2 linked regions of the Homo sapiens genome follow. The protein of the gene in region 2 interacts with the protein of the main gene of each other region in a pairwise test. Each region holds a gene or a part of one and is shown on either strand. Other genes may lie near its edges.

The links.
Region 1: the proteins of ARHGEF9 (region 2) and TBC1D22B interact in binary tests that used the Homo sapiens proteins (3 or more experiments, as listed by UniProt).

Annotation. Positions count from the first base shown.
Region 1 is NC_000006.12:37,264,212-37,268,043, forward strand, and holds part of TBC1D22B (TBC1 domain family member 22B), read left to right. Parts: intron 1-3,832. UniProt on the Homo sapiens protein: May act as a GTPase-activating protein for Rab family protein(s).
Region 2 is NC_000023.11:63,652,516-63,656,347, forward strand, and holds part of ARHGEF9 (rho guanine nucleotide exchange factor 9), read right to left. Parts: intron 3,223-3,832; coding exon 2,979-3,222; intron 1-2,978. UniProt on the Homo sapiens protein: Acts as a guanine nucleotide exchange factor (GEF) for CDC42. Promotes formation of GPHN clusters.

The sequences.
Region 1 (3,832 bases), on a different chromosome or scaffold from region 2:
AGAAAATAAAAATATAAAAATGAGTGTGAAAAATGCCAGATCCAATAGAGTGGCTTGCTAGGAAGGGAGGGAGGGGTATGCCAGGGTGTTTTGTTTTGTTTGGTTTTGTTTTGTTTTTGACACGGGGTTTCACTCTTGTTGCCCTGGCTGGAGTGCAATGGCACGATCTCGGCTCACCGCAACCTCTGCCTCCCAGACTCAAGCAATTCTTGTGCCTCAGCGTCCTGAGTAGCTGGGATTACAGATGTGTGCCACCAAGCCCAGCTAATTTTTATTTTTAGTAGAGATGGGGTTTTGCTGTGTTGGCCAGGCCAGTCTCGAACTGCTGGACTCAAGTGATCTGCCTGCCTCGGCCTCTCAAAGTGCAGGGATTACAGTGCCCAGCCCTGATTGTGTCTTATATTATGATCTAAATCTAGTTTATTTTTAAAAAGTAATATAAGCCCTAATTTATGTATGTTAGGGAACTAGAGAAGACATGAGTTAGTAGATGCTGGGGGTAGGGGTATGGAAAGTTTCATGAGGGGTGTAGAATTTGAAGAGAATGTTGCAGGATGGATACAATTTTGAAAAGGGATGTAGAAAATAGAAAAGCATTCCAAGTAGGGAAAAGAGCCTTATTTAATAATGGGTTTAATAAGTTTGGAAGGTGGAGTGGAGATCAGTCTTTCTTAGAGCTGAGTTTGGGTTTGGAAGGAGTAGGTATGGTACAGACAGTGAAAGGTGAATTATAAATGTCAGGAAATTGAGCACCTTAATCATTGGGCTCTTCTGGTCTATCTCCATTTAGTCTCTGTGATCATCTCGGTTTCTCTTTTCTAAATTCTTGCCTGTCTTTTTTAAGCTGCAATAAGCTGATTTATTATACAAAGTGTTCCAGTTTTAGATACATCATGGTTCAGTTCAAGAATATGTTAACAAATTCAATTTGGGCCCTGATACCTTTGCTGATGAAGTCCATCATTTATCTTAGCCTTCCTGGCTATGCCAGCACCTTGGGCTGACAGCTTTAAAAAATAGTCTACTGTGATTTTAAGATTCCTTTCCTAGATGGTAATTGATGGCCTCTGGCCCTTCAGCCTGCACAAATTAGGTTTGCTTTTCTTCTGCATGGGTTACTGGCAGATGGTAATACTTCTTTAAGGTAATACTCTCTTATTTTTCTACCCAGTCACCTTACCTAACCGGCCTGTTGAGATCTTCCTGCAGTTTATCCTCTGATTTTATATTTTATTGTGAGGAGGGCTTGTGGGCTTGAAGAATTCAGGTGTACTCTTAGATTATTTGCAGCTGCTAATGTGCATATCAGTAGCCCTTTGGGTTTTTTTTTTTTTCCCGTGGTCAGTGGGGGTGTCTAACACCCCCTTCCTCTCTCAGCAGAACTTTCCCTTTACTCTTTGATTCCTCTTTTTTTCTCTCTGCCTAGGAAACCCTTTAAACACATCAATTAGTATTGTTTTCAAAGTTTGTATTTCTGTAGTAATATATGTAATAGTTTGCTTACACATTACTTATTAATCTTCCAGAGAGGTTTAGGGAGTAAAGATTCTTATAGCTAAAGAAGTAGGGACTGTATTCATAAATTAAAGATTATATGTAAGATTTCCTCTGAAATCTTAATAGGAATCAATGTGAAAGTGATTGATTTGGCTATATTTTTATTTAAGAGCATCCTTTAGGATCACCTCTGTTATGTGAAACAAGTATTTGGTAAGCTTGTTTCAATTTCTAAATGTTGAGTATGGATTAAATTATAAAAATGGGAGGGAGGAAGAAAATCAACATTTCTTGGGCACTGAGTGTTTGCTGGGTAGTGTTCTAACATTTGCAAATCTACGTCACTTCCTGCTTAACATTAAATTAGCATTACCACCCACCAGGAATTGTGCTAAAGGGCTTTCAACATATCGTCCCACTTAAACCTTCTAACCTTCTCAAGATCGCTTATTTCTTATAAAGGTGATACTTGTACATGATACTAAATCAGAAAGGGTTTGCAGTGAAAACTAAGTCTCTTTGGTGTCCCATCATCTTCCAGTCATCTGGTTCCTATTCCAAACTGCTGCTACCAGTGTCTTTTGTATTCTTTCAGATACTCTGATATTCTTTCAGATACATAGACCTAATCATACATAAAATGCATGTATCTATTTTAAAGATTTTTATAAAAATGGTGTCATACATGTAGTTCTGCATCTTTTTTCAATTAATGTCTGAGTTTATTTCATGTCAGTGAATATAGAACTGCCTCATTCTTTTTTTTTTTTTGAGACGGAGTCTTGCTCTGTCCCCCAAGCTGGAGTGCAGTGGTACAATCTCGGCCCACTGCAACCTCCGCCTCCCCAGCTCAAGCCATTCTCCCGCCTCAGCCTCCTGAGTAGTTGGGATTACAGGTGCCTGCCACCATGCCCGGCTAATTTTTGTATTTTTTAGTAGAGATGGGGTTTCACCATGTTGGCCAGGCTGGTCTTGAACTCCTGAGCTTAGGTGATCTGCCTGCTTTGGCCTCCCCAAGTGCTGGGATTACAGGCGTGAGCCACCGCACCTGGCCAGAACTGCCTCATTCTTTTTAAAAGATATACTGTAATTTATTTAACTACTTTCCTGTTGGTAATTATCCTTTCTATTTTAATAGGTAAGTTAGCTCCTTTATATTTATTGGAATAACTGATATATTTAGTTATTTAGTTTAAGTTCAATTTTTAATATTTTCTTCGTCTTTTTTTTTTTTTTTTTTTTTTTTGAGATAAGGACTTACTCTGTTGCCCAGGCTATAGTGCAGTGACACGATGATAGGTCACTGTAGTCTCAAACTCCTGGGTTCAAGTAATCCTCTCACCTCAGCCTCCCAAGTAGCTAGAAGTACAAGCATGCACCACCACAGTTGGCTAATTTTTAAATTTTTTGTAGGTACAAGGTCTTGCTACGTTGCTCAGGCTGGTCAAACTTCTAGCCTCAAGCAGTTCTCACACCTCAGCATCCCAAAGTCCTGGGATTACAGATGTGAGCTACCATGCTTGCCCTTTTAAAAATATTTTCTTCTTAAAAAAGTCTTTCACTATGTGGACTGTGCTTGCTTTTGAGGGGAGGACATACATATATATATATATATACACACACACATATATAATATATATATACACACATATATAATATATATACACACATATATAATATATATATACACACATATATAATATATATATACACATATAATATATATACACACATATATAATATATATATACACATATATATAATATATATACACTATATATAATATATATACACTATATATATAATATATATATACACTATATATATAATATATATATACACATATATATATACACACACACATATATATATTCTGATAATTTGGAAGATTTATCTTTTTATTTTAGTGATTGTGTTTATAAGTGTAACTTTATACCATATTTCTTCAGACAGTACCTGTTGGCTCCCTACCATGAGTAATGATGAAATTAGTAAGTATATTTCCTCACCCCTCTCTTCCCACCTGCTTCTAGTTGATTATATTATTTTTCTTGGTTTTATTTTCTGTCGTAAAACATCCATATTCGTCTATTAACATTTGCAAATCTACATTAGGATTTAATGTTAAACAGGTAGTGACATAGATTTGCAAATTGAGCTATCTGCTTTAAATATCTTCTGAGCCCTGTCAGTAAAAGATGAAGAAGTCAATGCACTTCATTTGTCCATTTTTTCCTCCTTTTAACATTTGCCAATTATATTACTTTGATGTTCTCTTTGCCTCAAATGTAAGACCTAGTCATAAGGTTGGATCTGTTCAGGGCTCTCCACCAAT
Region 2 (3,832 bases):
AGCATCCATGGATTTTGATATGCACGGGAGTCCTGGAACCAATATCCCGTGCATACCAAGAGATGACTGTGGTTATTACATAATATTATGGAATGTTATACAGCTGTTTATAAGAAAAGTGTGATGAATTTATTGATGTGCCCATTCGACTAGACTGTAGTCCTCACTAATGTAGGTGTTGCCATGAAGGTATTTTACAGATATAATCAAAGCCCCTGATACGGTTTGGCTCTGTGTCCCCACCCAAATCTCATGTGGAATGGTAATCCCCATGTGTTGGGGGAGGGGCCTAGTGGGAGGTGATTGGATCATGGGGGGAATTTCTCCCATGCTGTTCTCATGATAGTGGGTGAGTTCTCACGAGATCTGATGGTTTAAAAGTATGTGGCACTTCCCTCTTGCTCTCTCTCTCTCCTGCCACTATGTGAAGAAGATGCTTGCTTCCCCTTTGCCTTCTACTATGATTCTAAATTTCCTGAGGCCTCCCAGTGATGCTTCCTGTTAAGCCTGCAGAACTGTGAGTCAATTAAACCTCTTTTCTTCATAAATTACCCAGTCTCAGGTATTTATAGCACTGTGAACATGGGCTAATACAGGCCCTAATCAGTTGACTTTATATAAGGGACAATATCCTAGATAATCTGGATGGACCTGACTGAATCTGTTGCAAGACCTTAAAAGTAGAGCCTAGGTCTCACACAGAAAGGGCAGAAATTCTACCTGTGCACCACAGCTTTAGCCCATGTCTGTGCCACTTCATCCTTCTCATGAGCTTCTCTTCCTGACTGCCTGTAGATGACAGCTTTGGCCTATGTCCATGGGTTTGAGCCTGCCTGTGATCCTCCATTTCTGACTGCCTGCTCTATGGAATTCTGAGCCACTTAGTCAACATTCACAATCACATAAGCCAATTCCTTGTAATGCAATTTTCAGCAGTGGTATGATATATCTCCTACAGGTTATGCCTCTTTGGTTGAACCCTAACTGATACAAGGGGTTATAGTTAGATTCTATATTATTTATCTGGGGAGTTACTTATGATAAATTAAGTTTAAAAAAGCAACCTACAAGGTAATATATATAATATAATTTTTGTAAATATAAAAGTATTATGTTTGTATATGTTTATATGGACATGAGATAAGTATGGAAAGATGCATACTGCACTGTTAACACTGGTTATTTCATTCAGTATGGAAGTGACAGAGAAGGGGAAGGAATGCTAAGTTTTCTTTATATATTTCCATATTTGTTTAAATGGTTATAATGGTCATGCATTAATTTTATAATTAAAAAGTAAAAGTTTAAAAAAGCTATGATAAAACTATATGACCCTCATAAAATAATGATTAAAAATATGAAGTGATCTGATAGAAATGCTAATGATATAATGATGAGTGAAAATGAGGATACAAAATTATATCTATCCACTATAGAGAGGCAGGTATGGGGAGAGAAAGAAAAAAGATTCAGTCACCTTGATTTTTCTAATTAGACACATAAAAAAGGCTGGAAATATATATCAAAATGTTTATGAAAGTTATTACTGAGTATGTTCATGTGTTTTTTTTTTTTCTTGTACTTTTCTGTTGCTTTTTCCCTAAATTTCCTACAATGGAAGTGATTTACTGTTATTATCAAACCAAAAAAAAAAAACCTCAACATTTTTAAAGATGAACATATGCCTGTTCAGAAAGTAATTTCTAGAAGCTTTTCTATTAGAAGCAGATAAAGTCACAGGTTTATTAGGGCATTGTGTGGGAGACATTGTGTTAGAGCCAATGGGAATGGCAGGGGCCTTCTAATTGATTCAGGGTCTGAACACTAAGACCATTCCTTTAATAACTCTAACAGCCTAGGCAAGGTCAGTGGCTGCTGCTGCTTGCTATTGAGAGAAGTAGCCAGCAACATTTATATGCCACTCCACATCATGTCCCAATGGAGTGTCCACATACTGAAAGCAGTCTGATTCCAATGAGACTCAAAGTGAGTTATTAATTTGCACTCTACCCAAGTTCTGAGGAGAAGACTGGAGTTAGATTTGTCTTTCTGACCATCCTTTCTTACCTCTGGATAATTTCAATCGCCCACATGGAAGGATAAGAGAACCCTTTTGCACCAGGATTCAATGAGTAGGCCCATTTTTCTAGAGACAATTTCCATAAACTTGAGCTTTCAGGCCTTCTAAAGTACAATTTCACTCCCATAAGCAATAGGGCAAAGACAGAAACTGTATGTCTTCTCAGGGAATTAACAAGTCTGGTTGCTTGGTATTTTTTATGACAGAAAGGCAGGACCATGAGCAAGAGACCAGACAGTACTTTATAAGTCACAAAGCTATAGCCAATGGCGTCTAAATCCCACAGTTGGGAAGCAACATGAAAAATATCTCTACTATCTATATCCCCACTGGAAAAGAGAAACAACTTATTGTAAGGCAAAAAAGTATGTTTCAGTGTGATTTGAAATCATGAAAATGGTCATGGTTTTAAGTCCTGTTATATTTTCTATAATTTACTTTAAATACTTCCACACAGAAAGTGTGAAGTGTATGTGCATATTATTTGAATCTACAGTCTAGGGGGATTTAGTTAACATCTGAAGTATCCTAATCAGGAGTACAAACTATATACCTAATGACAGAGAGCTCAGGCTTTATGAAGATTACAGAACAGGTTGTATAACTGATTTTTGTTTATTTGCTAATAAATGTATGTTTGGGAGAATCAAGCCTGAGGCTGGCTTTCAGTGTGATATTCTTAGCTAGTAGGGGAGGACAACCTATAGTTCAAACCTACCACTGACTAATGGAAGCTATTGGTACTTACCAAAAAGAACCTAATAATAAGGAACCACCAAAGTAGCTTAAGTCAGTTTGCAACAGAAATCTTCCCTCTGACTCCAAGAAAATGGAAACCAATTCAAACCTCCTATGTTCTTCATAGCCATGTTCTTCTTTCTACTCTCAGGTCACTTACCAATTTTTTCATCTTCCTGTACCATTTTCCTCTCTTCTCTGAAAGCCCTGAGCCAGCGTATTTTTTCCTCCAGCTTCTTGGCAAAGAACAGATGTATCTCCTCAGTCTCCTTGTTGTGAAGCTTAAAGGCATTCTTCATGCTGACATTGAAGTCATCATCTCTGCCATCCTCAATGTCAACTACCTCATATTTATCCATGTCAATGCGGCCTTTGTAGTACAGGATGTCTCTCCGGATTAGGTCCTAGATGGGAAGGAAGAGGTTTCTTGAAGGTATGTGCACGGCGAGTACTAGAAGAGTTGGCACAGGGGCACAGCAGAATGCTAACACTGTCACCGTTTTGAAGTACCAATGGGGGTTGGTTTGTTCTAAATTTGGCCAGGTTATACTAGTAGTCTGACACTGACAGGTTGGTTAACTAGATGCCCAAAGAAAAAGCCTCTGTCTCACCTCGAAAGATCATTTCAGACACCAGAATCAATCCTTGGACGTGTGTGCAAGTCTGCTGATGGGAGGTAGGAAACAGTAAGCCACATAAACACGGCTAGCAAGGGCTTCTCCTTTTCGAAAACATCAGCAAGCCCACTAGAGGTATGAAATGAGCTGGCTGGTTGCCTGGAGTGTGTTCAAATATCTGTGCAGGCCAGTGAGACCTGAACATCAGAGGGGGACTGAGTAGTAAGAGTAGCTAGGAGGCCACAGACTGCTGGCAAAGGATTACCTAGGGGGGGTCTAACACTTAGCACTCTGGGGATTTTTAGAAAAGGCCCAGTCTGCCAAGAGAAATGGAGGTAAAATTAAATAAAGAAGTTCACATATCAACACAGATGAATGTCACAAATCTTATGGAGAA